Linked DNA regions of Homo sapiens. The protein of the gene in region 4 purifies or fractionates together with the protein of the main gene of each other region. This does not show direct contact. Each region holds a gene or a part of one and is shown on either strand. Other genes may lie near its edges.

Evidence for each region.
Region 1: the proteins of EIF2AK2 (region 4) and NOC3L purify together in Homo sapiens (affinity purification with mass spectrometry; 2 studies listed by BioGRID and IntAct, with this or other methods). This does not show direct contact.
Region 2: the proteins of EIF2AK2 (region 4) and NOP53 purify together in Homo sapiens (affinity purification with mass spectrometry; 2 studies listed by BioGRID and IntAct, with this or other methods). This does not show direct contact.
Region 3: the proteins of EIF2AK2 (region 4) and DDX24 purify together in Homo sapiens (affinity purification with mass spectrometry; one large-scale study listed by BioGRID and IntAct). This does not show direct contact.
Region 5: the proteins of EIF2AK2 (region 4) and LYAR purify together in Homo sapiens (affinity purification with mass spectrometry; 2 studies listed by BioGRID and IntAct, with this or other methods). This does not show direct contact.
Region 6: the proteins of EIF2AK2 (region 4) and ADAR purify together in Homo sapiens (affinity purification with mass spectrometry; 3 studies listed by BioGRID and IntAct, with this or other methods). This does not show direct contact.
Region 7: the proteins of EIF2AK2 (region 4) and HNRNPUL2 purify together in Homo sapiens (affinity purification with mass spectrometry; one large-scale study listed by BioGRID and IntAct). This does not show direct contact.

What each region holds. Positions count from the first base shown.
Region 1 is NC_000010.11:94,338,940-94,342,439, reverse strand, and holds part of NOC3L (nucleolar complex protein 3 homolog), read left to right. Parts: intron 1-694; coding exon 695-767; intron 768-1,943; coding exon 1,944-2,007; exon of another isoform or gene 2,008-2,012; intron 2,013-2,092; coding exon 2,093-2,164; intron 2,165-2,519; coding exon 2,520-2,701; intron 2,702-3,500. UniProt on the Homo sapiens protein: May be required for adipogenesis.
Region 2 is NC_000019.10:47,752,046-47,755,545, reverse strand, and holds part of NOP53 (ribosome biogenesis protein NOP53), read right to left. Parts: intron 3,035-3,500; coding exon 2,939-3,034; intron 1,020-2,938; coding exon 915-1,019; intron 838-914; coding exon 655-837; intron 199-654; coding exon 23-198; intron 1-22. UniProt on the Homo sapiens protein: Nucleolar protein which is involved in the integration of the 5S RNP into the ribosomal large subunit during ribosome biogenesis. In ribosome biogenesis, may also play a role in rRNA transcription.
Region 3 is NC_000014.9:94,057,203-94,060,702, reverse strand, and holds part of DDX24 (ATP-dependent RNA helicase DDX24), read left to right. Parts: intron 1-89; coding exon 90-605; intron 606-2,805; coding exon 2,806-2,881; intron 2,882-3,500. UniProt on the Homo sapiens protein: ATP-dependent RNA helicase that plays a role in various aspects of RNA metabolism including pre-mRNA splicing and is thereby involved in different biological processes such as cell cycle regulation or innate immunity.
Region 4 is NC_000002.12:37,132,981-37,136,480, forward strand, and holds part of EIF2AK2 (interferon-induced, double-stranded RNA-activated protein kinase), read right to left. Parts: intron 2,567-3,500; coding exon 2,504-2,566; intron 1-2,503.
Region 5 is NC_000004.12:4,283,655-4,287,154, forward strand, and holds part of LYAR (cell growth-regulating nucleolar protein), read right to left. Parts: intron 2,919-3,500; 5' UTR 2,865-2,918; intron 142-2,864; 5' UTR 89-141; coding exon 1-88. UniProt on the Homo sapiens protein: Plays a role in the maintenance of the appropriate processing of 47S/45S pre-rRNA to 32S/30S pre-rRNAs and their subsequent processing to produce 18S and 28S rRNAs. Also acts at the level of transcription regulation.
Region 6 is NC_000001.11:154,598,187-154,601,686, forward strand, and holds part of ADAR (double-stranded RNA-specific adenosine deaminase), read right to left. Parts: coding exon 2,855-3,500; intron 400-2,854; coding exon 216-399; intron 1-215. UniProt on the Homo sapiens protein: Catalyzes the hydrolytic deamination of adenosine to inosine in double-stranded RNA (dsRNA) referred to as A-to-I RNA editing.
Region 7 is NC_000011.10:62,712,130-62,714,793, forward strand, and holds the end of HNRNPUL2 (heterogeneous nuclear ribonucleoprotein U-like protein 2), read right to left. Parts: 3' UTR 501-2,664; downstream 1-500.

The DNA.
Region 1 (3,500 bases), on a different chromosome or scaffold from region 4:
ATGTCACTCATAAGGTCTTTTATTCTTCTAAGATTTACATAGATCAAAGACTTCTTGCTAATATTGAAGAGATGTCCTGACTTTAACCTACTTCAGTGTCTACTATAGTATATGGAGTAACTCTCAAATTTAGCAGCTCATATGATTCTTCTTTAACCCTATTGGGTGGTCTCAGTTATTTCTACAAATAGAGGCCCAGGACAGTGAAGTGAGTTACCTAGGATCACGCAGGTAATTAAGAGCAGAGCCTGAACTAGATACTGGGGTCCAGTATTCTTTCCATTTTATCCTTAAAGCTGTCATAAGGTCCATATTCTTGTAAGTAGCAGAATCTTTCCTTGTCTCTCTTCCCACCACCTGTTTTCTTAGAAGCCGATCCTGCCGGATACCTCCTAAACTTTCCTCAGGAAGTTGTTTGCTTCTAGTAATTTCTTTCTCAGTGCAGAAGGATTTTTGAAATATTTTTGGTTTGTTCAGTGCCTTATATATTTCTACTGAGTTTAGTGTTCAATGGTGTATGAATTGTTGAAGAGGCCAATCTGAATTAATGAAAAGTATCAATAATTGCCATGTCTTTCATAGCTAACATTTCGAAATAAAGAATATTAAAAATACAGTTTTAAAGTCAAGCTTAATTTCTACCAGCTTTATTTCTGCTTTTAGTTCACTGATTAACTGTTTTGTTTGATTCCAGGTTTGCTCACCTTATAAATGTGGAATTTTTTGATGATCTGTTAGTAGTTCTTCATACTCTCATTGAGTCTGGTGTAAGTAATAATAAATTATTTTTTAAAAGATATAAATGGTAATTACTATTTTAAAAATTTTTCAGGTTTATTGAGATATATTTTGTATACAGTAAAACCCCTTTTAGATGTACAGTTTATGAATTTTGACAAAGGCCTATGATCATATGATTACCACCACAGTCAAGATGTAGAACGTTTTCAACCATTGGAGAGTTTTAAGCAGGAGGGTTGTCTGACCTGTTTTCTTTTTTTTTTTTTTAAATTGATGCATAATAGATGTACATGGTTTCAGGGTATATGTGATAATTAAATATATTCATATAATATAGTTTGTAAATATTTTACTTGGGATATCAGTCACCTTAAATATGTGTCTTTATGTGACAACCATTCAAATTCTTCCCTCCTAGCTATTTTGAAATAGATAATAGATTATTGTAAACTATAGTCACCCTGTAAATCTGCCTCATACTAGGTTATCTTAAAGATAACCTTTATAGGTCTTTTTTTTCTTTTTTGAGATAGGGTCTCACTCAGTTGCCCAGGCCGGAGTGCAGTGGTGCAATCACAGCTCACTGCAGCCTTGACCTTCCAGGGCTCAGGTGATCCTCCCACTTTAGCCTTTTGAGTAGCTGGGACTACAGATGTGGGGCACCATACCTGGCTAATTTTTCTATTTTTTTGTAGAAATTTTTTTTTTTTTTTTTTTTGAGAGGGAGTCTTGCTCTGTCACCCAGGCTGGAGTGCAGTGGCGTGATCTCGGCTCACTGCAAGCTCCGCCTCCCGGGTTCACACCATTCTCCTGCCTCAGCCTCCCGAGTAGCTGGGACTACAGGCGCCCACCACCATGCCCGGTTAATTTTTTGTATTTTTAGTAGAGACAGGGTTTCACCGTGTTAGCCAGGATGGTCTTGATCTCCTGACCTCGTGATCTGCCCGCCTCGGCCTCCTGAAGTGCTGGGATTGCAGGCGTGAGCCACCGCGCCCGGCCCTGAGAGATGGGTTTTTGCCATGTTGCCCAAGCTGGTCTTGAACTCCTGGGCTCAAATGATCTGCCTGCCTCAGCCTCCCAAATTGCTGGGATTACAGGCTTGAGTCTTTGCTCCTGGCCTTAAAGTTCTTTTTTAAAGCTATAAATGGCAATTACCATTCTTAATATTCCATCCCCCTCACCCCCCCCTTTTTTTTTTAAAGGACCTAAGCTATCAAGAAAGTCTTCACTGTGTCCAGACTGCTTTTCATATTCTTTCTGGACAAGGTATGATATTTTCTTAATCAAGTTTTGTTTGCCTTACCTTTGAATGCTATAACATACCTAATTGGTGTTTGTTGTCATTTCAAAGGTGATGTTCTGAATATTGATCCATTGAAATTCTACACACATCTCTACAAAACACTGTTCAAATTACATGCAGGTATGTATGTTTAGATAATGTTTCTTTTATATGTATTTATGTTTTAAGAATATGTTATGACCCATCATTGTAGACAAATGAGAAATAGGAACAGGTACATAAAATGGTGACTTTCCAGTGCCATGCATCTGTATTTAATCTTATGTAAGACTTGGAGAAAGAGCTTCTGGAATTGACTGGAGATGCAGTAAGTATAGCCCGCTGTATCTCCTTAGCAGTATAGCACTACCTCATTGATTAGAGAAATGGTTTGGGACAGGTACAAAAGTTTATCTTGGGTTTATCTGAAGTTCAGTCCAGTTGCGTAATGAAAAAGTAATGAGAACAGCTCTGAAGAATATGTCTGCTGTTTTAGGTGCTACCAATGAAGGTGTTGAGATTGTACTCCAGTGCCTTGATGTCATGCTAACTAAGCGCAGAAAGCAAGTTTCTCAGCAGCGAGCTCTTGCCTTCATCAAACGCCTTTGTACCCTTGCTCTTCATGTTCTTCCAAATTCAAGTATTGGCATTTTAGCAACTACCAGAATATTAATGCATGTAAGTAGTGATACAAATGAACAGAGCTAAGTTCTTATAATGCAATGATTTTTTTTGTTTGAGGCATGTCTTTTCCCCCCTTTTATATTATTTCAATTACAGAAGTAATTCACACTTGTAACAAAATCAGGTGACAAAAGAGGTATATAAAATTGAAAAAAAGCATTTTATACCTATTGACACTTCTCAGTGTCATTAGGTGGGTATCCATTTACCATTTGGTGGGTATTTTTCCAGCAGCCTTTTAAAGTTCATATATAAACACATACACATAGAAACAACTCAACTTTGTATTTTAATGGAAAGAGGATTATGCTATATATTCTACCACTTTTTTAACCTTAGCATTTAATCATGGTAAACACATTATAATGTCACTACTCTCTTTATGTAAGGTTTATTTAATTCTTTGCTTAACAAACACCATAGTTCTGACTATGTGCCTTCCAGTTATAAATGCCTTACAAAAATTTAATTTTCATAACTCTGAGGTAGCTACTATTCTTGTTCCTATTGTACATGTGGGAAAACTGAGGTCCAGAGAGGTTAAGTGTCTTGGCTTGAGTAGCAGTGCCAGTCAGTGGTAGAAGTGATATTCAAATGTAGGCAGTCTGGTTTTTCTGCTTCTTTCTATTTCTCTTGATATAGGTTATTTCTTTTTTTGCTATTACAAATGATGCTATAGTGAATATCTTTATGTATTTATCTGATGTAATTATTTCTATCAGATTTCTAAAAGTGTGATTGCAAGGTGAGAAGCATATTTTTTTCTTTTGCAAGATAAAATTAATTTTCAAAG
Region 2 (3,500 bases), on a different chromosome or scaffold from region 4:
GAACCCCCGGCCTGGTTCTCACTTGAGCCGCCCCAGCCTTCGGGGCTTGTCAGCCTCAGCCTCCCGCCGCGCCTGCCGCCGCCTCTGCCGCCGCGCCAGCTCCGCCAGCCTCAGGGCCACCTGGGCCTTGATCCCGCGCAGCCGGAACAGCTCCTGGTGCCGGAGCCGGGCGGCCCGCAACGCGGCCTGCTGTACCCGCTGTGGAGACGGGGGAGGGTCAGGGCTCAGGCCGGTGCTGCCCACACAGGGAGACCTTCTCTCTACACAGGGAGCCTTCCCTGCACAAACCTGCCTGTCCCCGGAGGCCCTTCCTAACCCCGTCACATCAGCGGCCCCTCCAGTGCCTTCCCAGCAGCTGTTTGCTGAAGCCCCTTTTGTCATCCATCTCCCCTGGTCTGCGGTGCAGAAACCTCCCCCCACCCCGCCCCTCAAACAGAAGCGCCAGGGACCCTGTCCCACCCCAGCCCGAGCCCTGCCTGGAAGAGGCTGGGAAATGAGTCTCAGCTGTGAGGATCCCAAACAGCCCAAACCACAGGCCACATGCGGGGCTTGGGGTGTGCAGGCTGCCCGCAGCACCCAGGGCAGCCCATGGTGGGAGGAAGGAAGGAAGGGGGCGAGGCATCAGAGGCAGGCCCCGCTGGCCCAGGCGCTCACCAGCCTGTGCACAGCCTTCTCCCGCCGCCGCTGCTGCTCCGTCTTCTTCTCTGTGGTGGCCAGGCGGGCGGGCGTGGGACAGACCTCGGCATCCCCAGCCTCCGGCCCCTCGCCCTGGCCTGGCTCCCCCTCACCATCCGACTCCTCCAGCAGCCCCTCGCACAGCTCCTGGAATGTGGACTCCTGGGGAGGCGGGGTGCAGTGTCAGGGGTGGGTAGGAGGCCCGGGGAGGGGAGGGAGTGGGCAGGTGCGGGGCTCACCTGGGTGGCGGCCTGCTCCGTGGCGGGCAGGGCCAGCTGCCGCTCCAGCTTCTCCGCCTCCTTCTGCCGCTGCAACTCCACCTCGTGGGCCGCTGAGAGCAGGGTCTGAGGGGCGGGAGTGAGGATGGGTCCCTGAACCCCTCCTGGGACACTGAGACTAGACCCTCTTACCTCCCATCTGTCCCTCATCCAGTGCCCGTGGATCCCGCCCCGGCCCAGGCTTTCCTCCCCACACCCCGTCTACCAGCACACCCACCCTGCACAGAGCCAGAGGGCACCTCAAACCCTCGCCCTCACACCTGCTCTGCACGTCTGTGAAGGCAGTCTGACCTGCACGCTTCACATTTTTTTTTTGAGATAGAGTTTCTGTCTTGTTGCCCAGACTGGAGTGCAATGGTGTGATCTCAGCTCACCACAACCCCCGCCTCCTGGGTTCAAGCGATTCTCCTGCCTCAGCCTCCCGAGTAGCTACTATTACAGGCATGTGCCACCATACCCGGCTAATTCTGTAACTTTAGTAGAGATGGGGTTTCTCCATGTTGGTCAGGCTGGTCTTGAACTCCTGACCTCAGGTGGTCCACCTACCTCGGCCTCCCAAAGTGCTGGGATTACAGGTGTGAGCCACCATGCCCGGCCCACAGTTTCATCTATGTGAATTGGTCAGGGTGGGCTGGTCCCTGAGACAGGAAGCCTGGCAGCCCAAGACCACACGAGACAGGGAATTGCGGGGGTGATGGCTGACATGTGTGAGGTTTCCTTTACGGACAGTGAAAATGTTCTAAAATTGACTGCGGGGATGGTTACACAATGGTCACTAAAAGCCACTGAATCACATACTCTAACTAGGCTGACCGTATGGTTAAGTGAATTTTATCTCTACGAAGTAGTTCTGTACAAATCTAAAAGTGAATGTCTGATCTCCACGCCCCCTCCCACATCTGGTCCAGGAACAGATGGCAGTGAGCGGCACCCTCACGCTTTCAACCATGAGCACACTGTTGCTTTTTTCCGCAGACACTTTTCTCTACCAGATGAGGAAGCTGCCTCTGTTCCTGGCTAGCTATCTCCTTCTTATGAATGCTGAAAACGATTCGGACAAGCGGTCCTGCATCTACCGCAAACATCTCAGCATCTCTCCAGTCACGTGACCCCATGAGAAGGGCTGTTCCTTGAGGGAGGGTTGTGCTTGTTTTTTGAGTCTCGCTCTGTTACACAGGCTGCAGTGCCGTGGTGCGATCATAGCTCACTGCAGCCTGGACCTCCTGGGCTCAAGCAATCCTCCCACCTCAGCCTCCCAAGCAGTTGGGACCACAGATGCGTGCTGCCATGCCCTGCTAATTTTCTGTATTTAGTAGAGACAGGGTTTCACCATGTTGGTCAGGCTGGTCTCCAACTCCTGACCTCCAATGATCTGCCCGCCTCAGCCTCCCAAAGTGCTGGGATTACAGGTGTGAGGCACCGCACCCGGCCAAGGGAGGGGTTTTTGTCCCCTTTGTCCACAGCATCTGTGCTCAACAGATGCCCGCTAAATGCACAGTGGCTCCAGCTAGACTTTCCCATCGCTGAGCTAGCCTCGCCCATATATAACTGTCACTTGGCTGCCAGTGTGCCACCGTGTCACCACAGCCTTTTTCATCTCTGCCCCACAGGCTTCCTGGAAGGCGCCACGGTCTCTCTCAACTCTGTGCCTTTGCAGTGCTGTTCCCACCACCTGGAAAACCCACTCCCCTCCTCCCACTGCAAACCCCTCCCTCAGCCTCTGCCTCGGCTCAGGCGACCCCTCCTCCCGGGAGCCCTTCCTGACCCCCCAGGCTGGGCCAGGTGCCCCGTCTGGGCTCCCAGCCCCAACCACTCTGCCCATCACTGTCTGGGAACAGGTCTCTTGCACTGGACCGTGAGCCCCGTTGCGGACAGGCCCAGGGCTGTCTGGGTCATTGGAGTTCCCAGCACAGGGAGGAAGCTAGTGAAGGCCTGACCAAGAGGCAGAGCCCACTGAGGAGGGAGGCCTGGACGGGGCAGTGTACCTGGTGGTCTTCAAAGGATGGATTGTAGGAAGCTCCGGCAGGCGCCACCTCCACGGCGGGTGCCTGGGACGGCTTGGTGTGCAGGCGTGCTGGCCGCTGTGGAGAAAAGGCCGAGGCAGGGTAAGGCCGTGCGTTGGGGCTGCGGGTGACCCAGGACACAGCCATGGGGCAGATGCTCCAGGCCTTGCCAGTGGTTGGGTGTGGGAAGAGCTCAAGGGGCATTCAGGTGACTCCAGAGCAAGACTCCATCTCAGAAAAAGGATAGCAGCCTATCCTCTGCTACCCACGAGGCTGAGCCCCGGAGATTGTAAGCACCTGGGCTCTAACACTTGGGGTCCAGCAGCTCAAGAAGGAGGCTGCAAATCCAAACTCAAACCCGTGACACTTCTGCCACTTGCCAGCACGGGCTCCACCTTCTCATGTGCTACCTCTTTACATTCTCCCCACCGACCCATGATCTAAGTACAATTTCATCTGTATTTTATTTTATTTTTTTTTTTGAGACAGAGTTTCGCTCTTGTTGCCCAGGCTGGAGTGCAGTGGCATGATCTCGGCTCACTGC
Region 3 (3,500 bases), on a different chromosome or scaffold from region 4:
TGTGTGTTTAGGATGAGTGTAGGGTGTGCTATAGATGATTCCTCTTAACCCGCTGCTGACCAATGATATGGGTCTCTCTGGATCTGCAGGTGCCTGGTAGTGGATGAGGCTGACCGGATGGTTGAGAAAGGCCATTTTGCTGAGCTCTCACAGCTGCTAGAGATGCTCAATGACTCCCAATACAACCCAAAGAGACAAACGCTTGTTTTTTCTGCCACACTCACCCTGGTGCATCAGGCTCCTGCTCGAATCCTTCATAAGAAGCACACCAAGAAAATGGATAAAACAGCCAAACTTGACCTCCTTATGCAGAAAATTGGCATGAGGGGCAAGCCCAAGGTCATTGACCTCACAAGGAATGAGGCCACGGTGGAGACGCTAACAGAGACCAAGATCCATTGTGAGACTGATGAGAAAGACTTCTACTTGTACTACTTCCTGATGCAGTATCCAGGCCGCAGCTTAGTGTTTGCCAACAGTATCTCCTGCATCAAACGCCTCTCTGGGCTCCTCAAAGTCCTTGATATCATGCCCTTGACCCTGCATGCCTGTATGCACCAGAAGCAGAGGCTCAGAAACCTGGAGCAGTTTGCCCGTCTGGAAGAGTAAGTTAGGACTGTCCCCAGAGGCTTAACCTCTAGTTAGTTACTGGGGTAAAAGGGGTCAGGATGGTGGGGAAATGGTAGAAAAGCCACCTTCTGTCATAGGGGCCTTGTCTCAGTAGTAGGTAGCCTTTTTTTTTTTTTGCACAGCATTTGGCAAGGTTACTGTCATTTAGTGAATTTGGTTGCAGTTAAATGCCATACAGAAACTTCAATACTAATGAATATAGGTGACAATACATAATATTGAATGTATAGACAATAGATTAGGTCCTGTGCTGGCACTTTAGATTCAGAATCACATTCAGTTACTCTCCTAACATCCTTAAGAGGAAGCAGAATAGATTCATGGTTAAGAGCACAGATCCTGGAACCAGAATGCCTGAAATCAAATCCTAGTTCTGTCACTCCTTAGGTGGTCAAGTTATTTAATTTCTCTGTACTTTAATTTTCTCATTATTTGGATAATAATAGAACCCATTCTAGGGTTGTTATGAAGATTGATTGTAAATTCATGCGTGTAAAGTGTTTAGAACAGTCTCTAGCACATAGTATGTATATATTGCTAAATGTTAGCTTTAATAATTTCTAGTCCCTTTACTACTTATTACCATTATCACTATTCTCATTTATAGATGGAAAAATGAGGTCTAGAAAAGCTGATCAGTGTGCCCAAGGTTTCTCTGCCTGGAAGTGGTAGAGCTGGGCCTCAGACAAGCCTGTCGGACCTCAGAGCCCATGCTATTTCTTATTCCTGATGTCTTTGTCCATCTGCCTTTGGACCAGACTGATGCTCAGGGAATGGGGTGCAGATTGTCAAGATGAGGGCCTGGAAAGTTGAGGCAGACTACAAAGTGTCTTTTGCCAGTGTTTTGTCAGGTCATGGGGTAATTAGTTTCTAGAACAAGTGTTTGATTTACTGGTTTTTAAAAATTGGTAAGTAGTATCAGTGGTTTACTGAGATTAGCTTAGAACAAGGCTTGGCAAACTATAGGCCTCGTGCCAAATCTTGCTTGCTGCCCTTTTTTTTTCTAAGATGGGGTCTTGCTATGTTGCCCAGGTTAGACTTGAACTCACGGGCTCAAGCAATCCCACCTTAGCCTCCTAAGTAGCTAGGACTACCAGTGCATGCCATCACACCTGGCTGCTGCCTGTTTTTTTAGTAGACGTTTTACTGGAACACAGCAAGACCCATTTATGTATTGTCAATATCCTCTTTTGCGGCAGAGTTGAATAGTTGCCATAGAGACTGTGTGGTTCACAAAGCTGGAAATGCTCTCTGGCTCTTTACAGAAAAAGTTTGCTGACCTTGATCCAGAGCAGTAGTTTAATGTTTTACAAACTAGGATTTGCATTGCATTTCCCGGCCTCAGCTCAGACATGCAGGGAGTGAGGACCCTGAAGGGCCAGAGTCTTATGTTTTGAAGCACCTCAAGTACTTTTGACTTTCCATGAACCACACATTGAGAAACATCATCCAACACATTTATCAAGTGCTTACCATGAACCAGATGTTGTTCTCTGTGGTGGTAATAACAGCAGTGAGTAATGCAAAGTCCTTGCTCTCATGAAGCTTACATTCTAGTAGAGGGAGATAATAAATTGCAAAGTAAGCCCACAGTCTGCCAAGTGATCCTAAGAAGTAAGTCGAGCAGGGGTTGGAGAAAAGAGATTGGGTATGTGTGGTCAGTCTCTGATGAAGTGAGAATTGAGCAGAGAGCTGAAGAAAGTAATGAAGTGAGTCATATGGACATCTGAGGCAAGACCCTTTAAGGCCTTAAGGAGTAGCAAGTGCAAAGGCTTGGAGGTGAGAGCATGCTTGGTTTGTTTGGGGAAGAGCAAGGAAGTCTGTGTGCCACTGGGAGGAAGTAAATGAGAGGGTGCTAGGAGAGGAGTCACTGACCCAGAATATGTATGGCCTCATTTAACTCACTGAAGGGAGTCTTTATCATTGCAGAGTATGGCATGTTGGTTGGGGTCAATGAGTCCCAAATTTGGATCCAGACTCCACAGCTGAATAGCCATGTAGATAGCTTGGGAAGTTAATCTCTCCGAGCCTCAGTTTTTCTGTAAAAGGGTATACAAGTGATATCTTACAGAGTATTGGTAAGGACTGTAATGTTTAGGATGCTCAGCAGTTGGTAAGAATTTGATTAAAGATAGCTGTTAGTTATTATTAATAAGCTTTCTCTCTCTACCCCAGCTGTGTTCTCTTGGCAACAGATGTGGCAGCTCGGGGTCTGGATATTCCTAAAGTCCAGCATGTCATCCATTACCAGGTAGGGGCATCTGAAAATTTATAGGCATCTGCCTGCACTGAATGGGGAATTTTTAAGGCAAAGGTTGGGGGAGGGAGGAGGAATTGTTGGTTCCAAGGCTCTTGCATCAGAGAATACCACTGGCATCGAGTGCCCACTACTCCCACTTTTGCAACACTGCTGAGATTTGGTCTCCAGAAAACCTTGCTTTGTCTCATGTCAAGTAGCCCTTCTCTCCAAGCTACTTGATATTGTCAGGTTAGAGTCTTAGTTTTTTCTGTGAAATGGGCATAAGTTAAGCATGTAATTGGTTACCCTGATGTAGAGAAGTATTAATAGAAGAGTGTGGTAGTTTAGATCTCTCTGGGCTCAAATCCCAGCTGTGTAACCTTGAACAAGTCATGTAATCTCTCTGTATCTCAGTTTTCTCATGTATTAAATGGCAGTGAGTACCTGCTTCTTAGGGTTCTTACTGAGGTAAAATAAGTTACTAAGTATAAAGAGCTTAAGAAGCCACCTGGCACATTGCAAGCACTTACTCATGTTAACTGCCATTGATAGTAGCAGTAATATTAGTGTGTGCATCTAGTGAATATCAGCATAAAATTTTGGTTAGGAGTATGGGCACCGGAGCCAGACT
Region 4 (3,500 bases):
AGGTTCAGGGTGCCTCCTTCTTTTCAATCTGATAATGGTCCTGAATTCATTTCTCAAATTACTCAAACACTTGCACAAGCCCTACGAATCACCTGGAAGCTACACATCCCCTATCAACCCCAGTCTTCAGGAAAGGTTGAAAAAATGAATGGCATTCTAAAAATCACCCGCACCAGGTACTCACTCCAAACACATAAAGACTGGGTTACACTTCTAGCTTTGGCCCTCCTAAAAATTCGGGCACTCTCACGTAAACCTTTAATGCTCATCCCCTTTGAACTCATGTATGGGAGTTTTGAGCATAAGTATTTGAACTCATGCTCCTTTTGTTCCACCTCAGGGTCAAGCCCCACCTCTAACAACCCCTCTCATTTCTCCTCTTCTGCATATCATCTGCCATTTCATTTGGGAATATGCTGACAAAATACAACTCCTTTAATCCCTTCCTACAGTCAGGAAACTGGGTTCTGGTAAAAGGTCCCAGCCCTACCCCCAATTCCCCCCTCACACCAAAATGGAAGGGGCCTTACCAGATCTTCCTCACTACACCCACAGCAGCAAAGCTCCAGGGACTCCCCAGCTGGTTTCATTATACTTCTCTCAAGAACACAGACTTCCCTTCACTACACATCCAAACAATCAAATCTAAACCACCTTCAGCCTCTCTTGTGTCTCCACAGGATCCACTTCCCTTCATCTCACATGAATGCCGGAGGAAAAGGAAGAGAAATTCACCTAAGCAGCTATGTCTCTTTCTCTCCCAAACTTTCATTGCTTCCTAACTAGCCTTGTTACAGACCTTCAGTGGTATCCTTATGAAACTCTCATTATACATCCTGATCAGCTCCTTACTATTCCACGGGATTTATGGCTTCAAGGAACCTTCCAGGACTTTATTCCTACCCAAACTTTTTCCTCCTTTTGTTGTTTCTTTCTATCTAAATTCCCTAATCACATCAACCTCACCGATACAACCACTCCTCACTGCTATCAAACTAGAACGTTCTATAAACCTTACACAACCCCTCTTGCTGCAAGCTAACTCTTCCTTTGCTCCAGAATGCTGGATGTGTTTATCGCTGTCTTCTTCAGCTTATACATCCCTTCCTACACCCCTTCATGACCTTTTAACAGAAAACGTAACCCTAATCTATAAACTCCAAAAAGGAGCTTCCTTTTTTGAAAGAGCTGACAGTCTGGTTGGCGATTATCCCACTTCCAAGGTCAATCAGGCCAACACATTATTTCAAACCTATTACAACTCCCTACAACGCCTTAAGCCACAAGGCCCTCCCATTGAAGGGCCCATAATTAAACACACCCCACTTTTACAACAAGCCTCACTTTGCTTTTCAGCCTCTGAGGGAAATTTCCGTGTAAGATCCTTAAACCTAACCAATGCAACCGCATTATCATTGTTAAACACCCTGCTGACCATCAAACTAACCGAGTTGACTACCAAGTATCACCTGAAACGAATGGAGCATTTCTGCAACCTGTTCGTTTTGCAGCCTCTCCCTCAACCAATGCCTCTGGCCTAATTTGTGCTGCCCCTAGCGCCCACCTTTATCCATGGCTCAACATCAATGCAATGGTGCAACATCAAATCGTATTAAATGTGTAAAAAATAACTCTTCCTATATCGCTACTATAGTGGGTGTCTCCTTGACCTCCTCCTTGACCACCTGGAGTAATGAACCATAGGAAAGAAAAAACACCCATCTTTAATTCACTTGTTTTCTTTCTGTATCTCCAACTGTATTTATGACAAAGGCTTATTTTTTGTGTGAGTGGCACCAACACATATCTTTGTCTCCCCACTAACTGGACTGGAACCTGTACCCTAGTTTATCTTTCTCCCTCCATTGGACTAATTCCTCCTAGCCAACCTTTGCCCATTCCATCCATCCAATACGTTAGGAAGAGGAGGGCCATCCACGTCATTCCTTTAATGGCTGCCTTGGATATAACCTCCAGACTTGGATTGGGAGCAGGCAGATTGGCCACTCCCTTAACATACTTTAAAGCTCTTTCCACAGAATTACAGGGTTCTTTAGAAGATATAGCCTGAAGCATTATAAGAGTCCAAGACAAACTAGACTCCTCGGCTGGAGTAGTCCTCCAAAACAGATGGGGACTAGATCTAATAATGGCTGAAAAAAGGGACCTCTGCCTCTCATTGGGTGAGGAATGTTGCTTTTATCTCAACCAATTGGGCCTAGTAAGAAACGCTGATGAAAAACTTAAAGAAAGGGCTAAAAAGCTAAGGGAGTATCAAAACAACCAACTAGATTCTTGGTTTGGGAACAAAATCATAATATGGGTCATCCCATTCCTGGGCCCCCTCTTAATGATAAGCCTAAGACTATTGTTCTTACCCTGCGTAGTTAATCTTATTCAAATATTTTTAACTGACAGGATCATGGCCATTTCACAGACAACTACCAAAAACATCCACCGACAGCATTACCCCTTCTTCTTTCTTCAGCACTTAAAATCTTACCTCTTGTCCACAGTATACTTTGTTTCTTTCATGTCAGGAAGGTCAAATCTGGGTGCCAAAGATCTAAAAATTAAGAGTTGAATGTAAAACTCAAATAAAATTGAAATCAAATATAACTTATTTAGTGTTAATGTTAACCTTTTTCTTTCTTTTTTTTTCTTCAGAGGCAAGGTCTCACCCCATCTCCCAGCCTGGAGTGCAGTGGTGTGATCATAGCTCACTACAACTTTGAAATTCTGGGCTCAGAGGAGATCCTCCCACCTCAGCCTCCCAGGTAGCTGGGATTACAGGCATGTGCCACCATACCTGGCTAATTCTTTTTATTTTTAGTAGAGACAGGGTCTCTTCATGTTACCCAGTCTGGTCTCGAACTCCTGGACCCAAGCCATCCTCCCACCTTGGCCTCCCAAAGTGCTGGGGATCACAGGCGCAAGCCACAGCACCCAGCCAACTTTTTTCTTTATAAAACTATATACTTACCGTTCTCCTCTGGCCTCTAATACTTTTTCATCCCTCCTCTGGTTCCTTTTTCCACCTTAGAGTGCTCATTGTTGATGCGTCACTAACCTCTCCTTTTCCTCCTCCAGACTCAAAACCTCAGGAAGTACATCTCCTTACACCCTCATCCTAGCTGTTATTCCTTACTGATGATAAGCCACCTGCAAATGGAAGTTTAAATACCACCTAAAACTAAACATATCCAAACTGCTGTCTTCTCTCTAAGCCCTTAACTCCTTAACTTCCTTAACACCATTAGTGCCATGGTTCTTGACTGCATCCTGTTCAAAGTGAAGCAATCTTCAAATCCTTTCTCCTTTACCTCTCCTTCATGCTTTCACTCAGCTACGGGGAACCTATTCCCTCAAGTCATGTCCACTCTTCCTTTACAGTCTTTCTCACACATTCTCCTCATCCCTCCTGACTGCCACAGTAATCGTGGCTGAGGGCACCTCATGTGCAGAACTCTCTTCTCTCCATCCAAGCATCCACATCAAGA
Region 5 (3,500 bases), on a different chromosome or scaffold from region 4:
ATTCACAGTTTCTGCAAACAGACACATGCTTTTCCACTTGTATTTTCTTCACTGATTCACCACATGCATTGCATGTAAAAAATACCATTTTTAGGTAAATGGCTAAATATTCTCTATCCAAGACAGGTTTTAAGTCTTGTCCTAAGGAAAAAAAGACAATTATAATTATAAACTGAAACTTCTCATTTCAATAAATGGCTCATGCCCCTAACTTTTCAACCATAATTTCACATGAAAATAACAGAGTCAAAGTTGATTAGCAATCTACATAAAATTCCACCATTCATATAAGTAAAACTAACATTAACAATGAGAATGGCTAACATTTATTGTGTCCTTACCACGTGCCAGGCACTATTCTAGAGGCTTTACATTTATTCACTTATTCAATCCCCGCAGTAACCCTATGAGGGAAGGACTATTATTGTTCAAAATTTATATGAGGTAACTGAGACACAGAGATTACATAACTTGCCCAAGGATACACGGTTAACAGAACCAGGATTTAAACCTGGCAGATTGGCTCTCAAGATGAAGAGCTTTGAGGGTGTTAAATCTTACTTTCCATAATACCTTAAACTCTCTCTCTGTATATGAAACTTATAGAAGGCATTGCAATTTAGGTGTACACTACAAACTATTTCAGGTCCTCAAATATACTAAGAACACAGCAAGAGGAAAACTGAGTGAAGTTTAGAAAGTGAAGAAGAGGCAATTCTATGGGCACAATTTCTATGGCACTAAAAGCATTCATATCAATATTACTATATATCTACAAAGGTTAAAATGAGGACATGCGCCTCAGCTGTAATGGACAGGGGCCTTCTTCATGTGGCAGCTTGTCAGACAAGTCAGAAAGAAACGGAACCAAGTCCAGGTGTCCCAACTGCTGGGTGCTGAATTACTGGAGTTCACAAACCCAGGTGTCCCGAGCACTGCCCCAAAAAGAAGTATGTCTGCACACGCACATAAACATCATTGTAAAATTTCACAGAAATGCTACCGTGCTCAGGAAAACACAAATTCGTCTAGAAGTGTTAGAGAAGTCACAGTAATTTTCCATACTTACATAATTTTTAATCACTAGATTTTAAAACAGCATTGTTGTTTTACATTATAAGTTTTACAGCAAAAATACTGAGAACTGTTTAACCCAGAGCTTTCTTCCTCATTAGGAAAATAAAGGTGAGGGTCAAGTAAACCGATGCAATTTACTTCAGGGTAGGACTTCATCCAACAAGCTTTCAGTACAAATGATCTACCCTTGGTTTGCAGAGAATTCCCATGCATGAAATCACCGTTGCTCCTCCACCAGCATGTTTTGGATCACTGCCAGTGAGGCCACACCCAAGCAACGACCAAGGTTATTCATGTCCATTCAGCCTTGAATGGAAATGTACATCCTGGCTGCATCTCCAGGGTTCACAAAGGTCCAGCTGGTCTCTTGTGGAGGCCTCTTGCCCTGTGGGACACTATCAGACATCAGCTCAGCTTCTACGCTACATACAAACCACAGACCCCTGATTCCGCGGTCCCAGGCCCCGCTCCTCAGCTCACTATCAGTGTATGTTAGTAAACGGACAGCATGTGGTCAGCTACAACCTAGCACCAAATCCTCAGGAAGGAAAACATGACTACCCTCGATGTGCTGCAGCAACTGTCATCTTCTCATCTGCTTACTGTAAAGATGTGTGATATTGTCAAGCTCCTGGGAGCTGGAATCACGTTTCCCACAACCCAGCTCCCTCAAAGCTTACCATTCTAAAAAAAGGCAGAGGGATGATCAACATGTCAGGCAACAAGAGCAGCTATCCTGCCTGACAAGGGAGAACAAAGGCTGGAATAAGAGCCAACATCACATTCTCAAAGAGCATGGAGGTGCACTTTGGTGTAAGAGCAGGAATAACTTATTAGTCACCAAGAAATAGATTGTCATCACAGGCACAAGGTGAAAGCAGCCGTGATATGCCAAATTATCTGCTGAAAAACGTTAAAGCACTTTTCTAATAAGATACAACAACAAAAAACAGTCTCTGAAACTTAGATACGGCTTAGAGCTTGCCAACCTCTGTTGCTGAGGACAATTCTATTTCTGGATGGAGTGGGAGATGGGAGGAAGAAAGGTTTCGACAAGGCTTAAGAGTGAATTGAGAGATTCCTGTCCCAGCAGGAATTAAAGGCCTAGGAAGGAAGCTGGAAACAAAATATATTGACTGAAAGAAGCAGTGAAAGCAGTGATGTTGACAAAAAGATACTCAAGAGTAACTGTGCCAAACATTCTATCTCTCTGGAGATCGGCTACACACTACAGTGTAATTAAATATCAATTCAGAAGGTGATTAGAATCTGGTTACATGTCCAGCTAAAAAATAACTCTCACATCATTTTCATTTGGTCTTTACTTGTTTAAGGCCAAATGGGTGGATTGCACAGGAAGTCAGAACTGTCTCTTCCTGCCTTCCTCCGGATTTTTACACTTGCCATGAAATGGGAACAGCTCTGTGTCCACTTGCTTGGCTAATGAGCTAATGTCTGTAAGGAGCTTACCTCTCCTTTATTCAGAGCCTGGAGGACAGTCCAGCACCTTGATTACACCTCAAACCCAACCTAGCCCCAGGCGAAAATACCTGTAATTTATGCCATAAACACTTGCTTGGGCTTCAAAGAAAAGCTCAAAACCATCAGAAGCTTCAAAGTCAGCCTAACTGCACAGCAGACAGGGTGTCCCAGGTCTTAGTGCAGGCTTAATATTCGTAAGCGTAAATGCTACAAACTTACAAAAAGCCGTCAGGTGGAAATTCAGTCCCTCTAATGGAAGACAGCAAACATTGCCTAAAACAAAAATGTAAATACTACAAACTTACAAAAAGCCGTCATGTAGAAATTCAGTCACTCCAATGGAAGACAGCAAACATTGCCTAAAACAAAAAAGTAAAACGGTATTGTTCAAATTCCACAAGACTAGATAAGCATGAAGGAAATTTAATTAAACTTTTTTTTTTTTTTTTTGAGAAAGGAGTCTCGCTTTGTCGCCCAGGCTGGAGTGCAGTGGTGCATTCTTGGCTCACTGCAAGCTCCGCCTCCCGGGTTCATGCCATTCTCTTGCCTCAGCCTCCCGAGTAGCTGGGATTACAGGCATCCGCCACCACGCCCAGCTTATTTTTTGTATTTTTTAGTAGAGATAGATGGGGTTTCACCGTGTTAGCCAGGATGGTCTCAATCTCCTGACCTCGTGATCCGCCTGCCTCGGCCTCCCAAAGTGCTGGGATTACAGGCGTGAGCCACCGCGCCCGGCCTTAATTAAATTTTAAATGATGTTTTGGCAAGTTTGGATCATTTATGCTTCTGAAATTATGAAAGCTTAAAACTGCATTAAGATTTTGAGGACACCCAGTCTGCCGGGCTCAGATGTGACAGATTTCAACATCTAGCCCTAAGTGTAAAAAGACAGCAGTTTTTTCATGGGGCTGGATCTAAATAGAGTCCTCTTTTCCTTCCCT
Region 6 (3,500 bases), on a different chromosome or scaffold from region 4:
AATTCTGTAAATCCAATTATGTTGGGACAGGAGCAGACAGAGGAGCTGGGTATGAGAGGAGGAAAGGTGGGCTGGCGAGATAGGGTAGAGGGAAGAGTGGGAAGCTGACTCCGAGATGGTGTCAGTTGTTTAGGCTGGGATTGCCTCAAGGGAGTCAGTTACAATCCAGACACTGACAGGGAACTGATCCTCCCAGATGGCAGGAGGACACCTACCTTCTCTGATTCTTTCTCTGTGGAATAGTGGGATGATTCTTCTGATTTTCCACTGTCCTTGGCTTTGGCTTCCTCTAGCAGAATTGTCATGGCTTTCATAGCTGCATCCTGCTTGGCCACTTTCTTGCTTCCAGCTTCAGCTGGGGGAAACTCTCGGCCATTGATGACAACCTGGAATTTAAATCTTGACGGAAAGTGATTAGATGTGTGAACAGGAGTCTAGGTCACTCCTTCTGCCTTCTCCAAAGAGACCTTCAACCTGGAATTTTCTGCTACGCTAAGGGGCTTTTCACTTGTGGAGATGAAGGGTAGGCCAAGGAACTCCTTCCTACTCCTTAAGGCTCAGCCTGTCCTTTCTTTTTGTAAACAAAGCAGCCAGTGACTCTTTCCCCATAGCTCAGTGAAGCAAACATAGGCACAGATGATAGGAAACTAGCTCAGGGGAAACCCACTATCTCTTTAACAATGAATTAAGATAAAACCCACACACACAAAAATGATGAGCCAAAAATTACCATTATAGTCTTGTGAGCAACCAAAAGACCTTCATTCTAAAGCAATTGTGGTAGACTGGCCTCCTCAAGGGAGGGTCCTAAAAGATAGTGAAGGCTTCTTATAACCCAGTCTCACACTCCCCACTACCTAGGGGGATCAGGCATCTGCCACTTATCAGTGGCCTGCTTTTGTCCCTAGACCTATATCACCGTAGTTTGTTATGAGTCACTCTATAGCACCATTTGTCTCCAGCTATTTTCTACATAACAAGGAATTTCCCCTTGTTATGTAGAAAATAAAAAAGCATTTGTTCTAGGCCTCTGGACTTAGCCTAGGCCCCCTTTGTTCAAGCTTTCAAATGTGGTGAGCTCTTTGCTCAGTCTGGGATTTCATTTAGAAAAGTAGGTCAAATTTCTTATTTCCTAGGTCTTCTGATATATTTGAACATGGCACCAATGTTTCTTTTAGTGTGAGTCCAAAGAATGACTAACCACAAAATCCACTGCTTTCCTCCAACTCTGGGGAGGAGGGATGGAGGCAAAAGAGAATGACGGCCATCCAGTCTCTACCCCAAACAATCCAGCTCTGGCCTTGCCAGCTTTTGGACAGACACAACTCCTTTTCTTAACCGCTCTCCTGAAATGCCAAATTGGTGTCATGAAGACAGTCAAGACAAGGAATAAGGGCCCTAGCCAGGAATCTACACCCCTAGAAACCAGGCTAGGTAAACATAAAGGTCAGTGGAATTCTCCCCCATCCTACTGGCTCTTTCCCTGGCTGCAGCTGCAGCCACTCAGCTTCAGTGGTTTTGCTCTCTGTTATGCCCTTCAGAAGCTCCTGTTTTCCTCAATCTGTCCACTGGCCTATTAGGACCTACAGTGCAGGGCCTGACCAGCTATCTGAGTGAGGTAAAGGCTGACTTCACAGCTCAGGAGTGGCAGCAAGTGCTAGCCTACCCATCTGTGCAGAGGAGGTTTATAAAATTAGAACCACCACCTTCAACAGGCAGGCAGCCGTGCACACGCTCCTCCATCCTTTCCCCCCAGGAGCTATGCAGAGGGGGGATTGTGGACCTGCTGCTGCTTAGCAGCACAACCCACCCCCACTGTGTATGCAGCCTGCCCCAACCCACCTGCTCCTGCACCTCTCTCAGAAAACGGCTTAGGGAGGAGGGGAAGGCCTACAGAAGGGAATTAAGTCTTCATTACCTCTGCCTTAGGAGGCAGGCATGATATTGATGCATGGAGATCAATCATGTTTTTCTTTTTTCTTTCTTTTTCCAAGATGGAGTCTCACTCTGTCGCCCAGGCTGGAGTGCAGTGGCGCCAATCTCGGCTCACTACAACCTCCACCTCCTGGGTTCAAGTGATTCTCCTGCCTCAGCCTCCCGAGTAGCTGGGATTACAGGCAAGCACCACCACCCCCAGCTAATTTTTGTATTTTTAGTAGAGATGGGGTTTCACCATGTTGGCCAGGCTGGTCTCGAATTCCTCACCTCATGATCTGCCTGCCTTGGCCTCCCAAAGTGCTGGGATTACAGTCGTAAGCCACCGCCCCGGCCCCCAAGACCAATCATTTCTTTCTTTTTTTTTTTTGAGATGGAGTCTTGCTCTGTGGCCCAGGCTGGAGTGCAGTGGCGCAATCTCAGTTCACTGCAACCTCTGCCTCCTGGGTTCAAGTGATTCTCCTGTCTCAGCTTCCTGAGTAGCTGGGACTACAGGTGCACGCCACCACGCCCAGCTAATTTTTGTATTTTTAGTAGAGACAGGGTTTCACCATGTTGGCCAGGCTGGTCTCAAACTCCTGACCTCGTGATATGCCTGCCTCGGCCTCAAAAAGTGCTGGGATTACAGGCATGAGCCACCGCGTACGGCCAAAACCAATCATTTCTAAAGAAGCTTCATTACAGCCAACAGAGTCAACCTCCCCCTTGTTCAGCCAAGATTCTGGCTGGTCCAAGGTCTATATTCCCTGCTCAATATCTGGAGAAAGGGCCAATCAAGGGGAATTTAGCTAAAAGGCAGAAGGGAAGGAGGAAAAGATAGGCGCCACCAAACAGCACTGCTCACAAATCAGCCAAGACTGCGTCAGGAGCAAAAGCACCTGACCCCAACCCTAGGTACAGTTCCTGGGTGGTCTCTTACCGAGGTTCATGGGGTGGTCCACTCTGCTCTATCATGTTGAACTCACAGGTTTGACTAGCGAACTGGGCATATTCTAACAGCCCGCTGATGGGGTTCTTCAGCTGGCACTCTGTCAGTTTCTTGTAGGGTGAACACCGTGGCAAGCCATGACTGTAGAAGGAGGGCATCTCCATGATGGCTCGAAACTCACCTGGTGCTGCGCGGATACTATTCAAGTCATCTGGGATGTCATCTGTGGCCCACTGGCCATTTTCAAAGTCAACATACCCTGCTTTTGAGGGGCCATTGTAATGAACAGGTGGTTTCAGTCTTGCTGGTTCTGGTCTGGCCTCTTGCCTGTTTTCTAACTTTATGACAGGTTCCTGCCCATTCTCCACTTTTTCTGTGGTTACCATGTTATTTGAGGCATTTGATGTGGGTATATTACAGGTGAGGAACTCTGCGTTTCTTTTGGTCTCAGGGATTGCAGCTGGAGCGGTTTCAGGAACACTGTTCGTATTTCTCTTGATTTGCATCCTCTCTCGCTTCTTGTCTGTCAAATGCCATATGGGAGGGGTTGTCCCTTGTCTATAGACATCCCCCTGCCTTTCCATGTCAATTAGCACAGCATTTATATCTCGGGCCTTGGTAAGGCCAATATTTTTAG
Region 7 (2,664 bases), on a different chromosome or scaffold from region 4:
AAAAATAAAAATAAAAATAAAAAATAAAAAAGCAATGGCGCTGTTGTAAATTTAATTTACCGTCTCGTTCTCCAGATTCACTGGAAAATAACCCCCATCAAACTTCTGTTGAATGAGTGGGCTTTCCCCCTAGCAGTAATTATTCATGAATATACTTATTTGGCTCCACAATGTACATTTAACTTCAAGCATCCAACTAGTTTTTGCATAGGCCAAATACAGAGGTCGTGAGTTATAATTTATTTTCCTATACTTCAATGGCTCGACTCTTGGCCTAAGCAAGCACTAAATAGACTAATAACTACCCACCCATGTCAACTGACTGCATGGCTGGCTCCCAAGTGAAGGCATGGTAGAATAGGGAGGGAACGGCAGCCACCATGCAAGAGGAGAGTCCTCCTTGGTTGGAGCCCATGCGACCTGAGAAAGAGGCATTAAAAAATGAATAAATAACCCAGTGACACCCTCCGCCCCAGTCAGTGCAGCCACAGGAGATAGGGTGAATTCAATCCAAATGGTTATTTATTCTAAAACTGGAAGCTACTTTGCCTACATTTTCGCCAGAATGGTGTAATGAGAACAGGGGAGGAAAAAGTTACAGATGTAAACAATGACACAGTTACATTTTTTTTTTAAATGGTAAAACCCCTTTTTACTGGCCACTTCCAAGAATGCTTTACAGGTTGTGCAAAAACATTTACAGGCTCCATGTGGTGTTTTTCTCACAAGCTTTCCTGTCTACAACTACAACAGACGTCTGATAAAACACTAAACAAGTCTTCTAAGGAAAACAAGGCTAGGGATTCCTCTGGTTACCATAATCCACATTTTCCCCCTTAACATAGTTTTTCATAATAAAAAGACAGAAACAAAACCCGGACATCTACTGTTGTTGCAAATGATCTCTTGGACTAAACCAACAAGGATGTGGCAGTTTCACTTTCCACCCACCTAGAAAAACAGTTTTGTAAAAAAGATTACTTTCTAGTGTCAAATATCAACAGCGAGTACCTCCCCTAACCCCTGCTGGAAAAAAACTCAACTTGATTTAGTTTAGTCCCCTTGCCCCTAAGGGCCCTAGCATCCCCATCCATGTCACAGACTACAAGAAAGATGCTATTTGCAGGACTAAACATCTGAAAAGGGGTGGCAGCCACTGCCTCAGGAAATTCAATTTTCTATTATAACATAATCTTGCCCTAAGGGAATTTCTTTGGGCTCCAGTTTTTACCTCCTTGCCTTGACATTATAAGCAAAGCTTTCTCAAACTCCCTTAATAATAATACAAAGTTAATGTGTTACAGAAAAATTCATGCAATCACTCCACTGCCACACAGAAATCCATTTGAGGACACCGCAGGGAAGCAGGTGCCAAGAGAAAGGACATGACTATGAGTAAGCAAACTTATCTCCTACCAGCCCCATTCCAGCCTTGGGGTCAGAGGTATTTGGGCGGAAGGGTGTGTCATGACAGACAAGGACACTAGAGGCCAGAATAAGGGTCTGTACACCTGAACAAGGGCTGCAGGGCAGTAACAGTGGGAGGAGGAGAGGAAGACCAAATCAGCCCACAATTTTAAACAGAGAACTGCCCAGGTGAGGAAATGGAAGTGAAGCATTTTCTAGTGGCACAGATTTTCTCACTAGGAACTGCTGCAGTATGTGGTGTCTGCTGAGTAAGCTCTTGGCTGACAGTGCTGAGCAGGAGGATGAATGAAAACTGAAGCTAGACATTGAAAGAGCATTCCATATCCCACCCATATTCTTGAACCCAGCAACCTACAGCTGTCTATCAAGAACTGGGAGGGTATTGGTAAAGTCACAAATGAAACTATCCCAACTGAAGGCTCCTGGCTAGAGGCCTCTCTGGGGACACACAGGGAAAGCGCCCCAAAAGGAATTTTGTTTCTAGAAGTCGGGAAGGGGTGCTCCCTTTCACACGCACATTTACACACGTTCACACTCACACTCTTCCCAAGGTTCAGCAGCCCCACTGAGCTGCCTCCCACCCCCCCCCACCACCCTCCCCTCTTCTATTCATTCTCTACCTGTGTATCAAAAAAACCAGCAGGGCACGAGCCCTCCACACTGTAGAAAATAGTTGCTAGTTGCTATTCTCAGCACCTGGGCCTGTGAGCCCACACCACAGGATTCACCTATATACATATCCCGCTGCAGTGAAAAGAATCCTGCTGTGTTTTCGTGTGAGCTGAAACCCTGAGAAACGTTCCTTCTCTCGCACTGTAAGAGGACAGACACTCTAACAGGGATGATTTCAGAGACCTCCCACCTCTCTCAACCTTGGAAGACAGAGACTAGAGACTGGCAAATCACAATCTTTAGGCTGAGGGCTGCAATCCCATTCTCCCCAAGATTTTACAGGAATTAATCAATGGGTCTATAGAAGGGGCAGGCTATTCTGCTCTGCCATCAAGGACAGTCCCCAGGCTTTCTTGGCCTGGGAATCCTGTAAAATAGAACCACCCACTGGCAGTCTCCATGCCTCAGCCAAACAGCACAAAGGCACAGGAAAATGGAGAGTTGGGACACTGTAAGCCTCCCAGCCCACCAGACCACATATCCCAAAAGGGAAAGGTCGGTAAAGAAAATACAAACGGTTAGTTGGTGCAAGTGATTGATAAGAGCCAATCGTTTATTTTCACT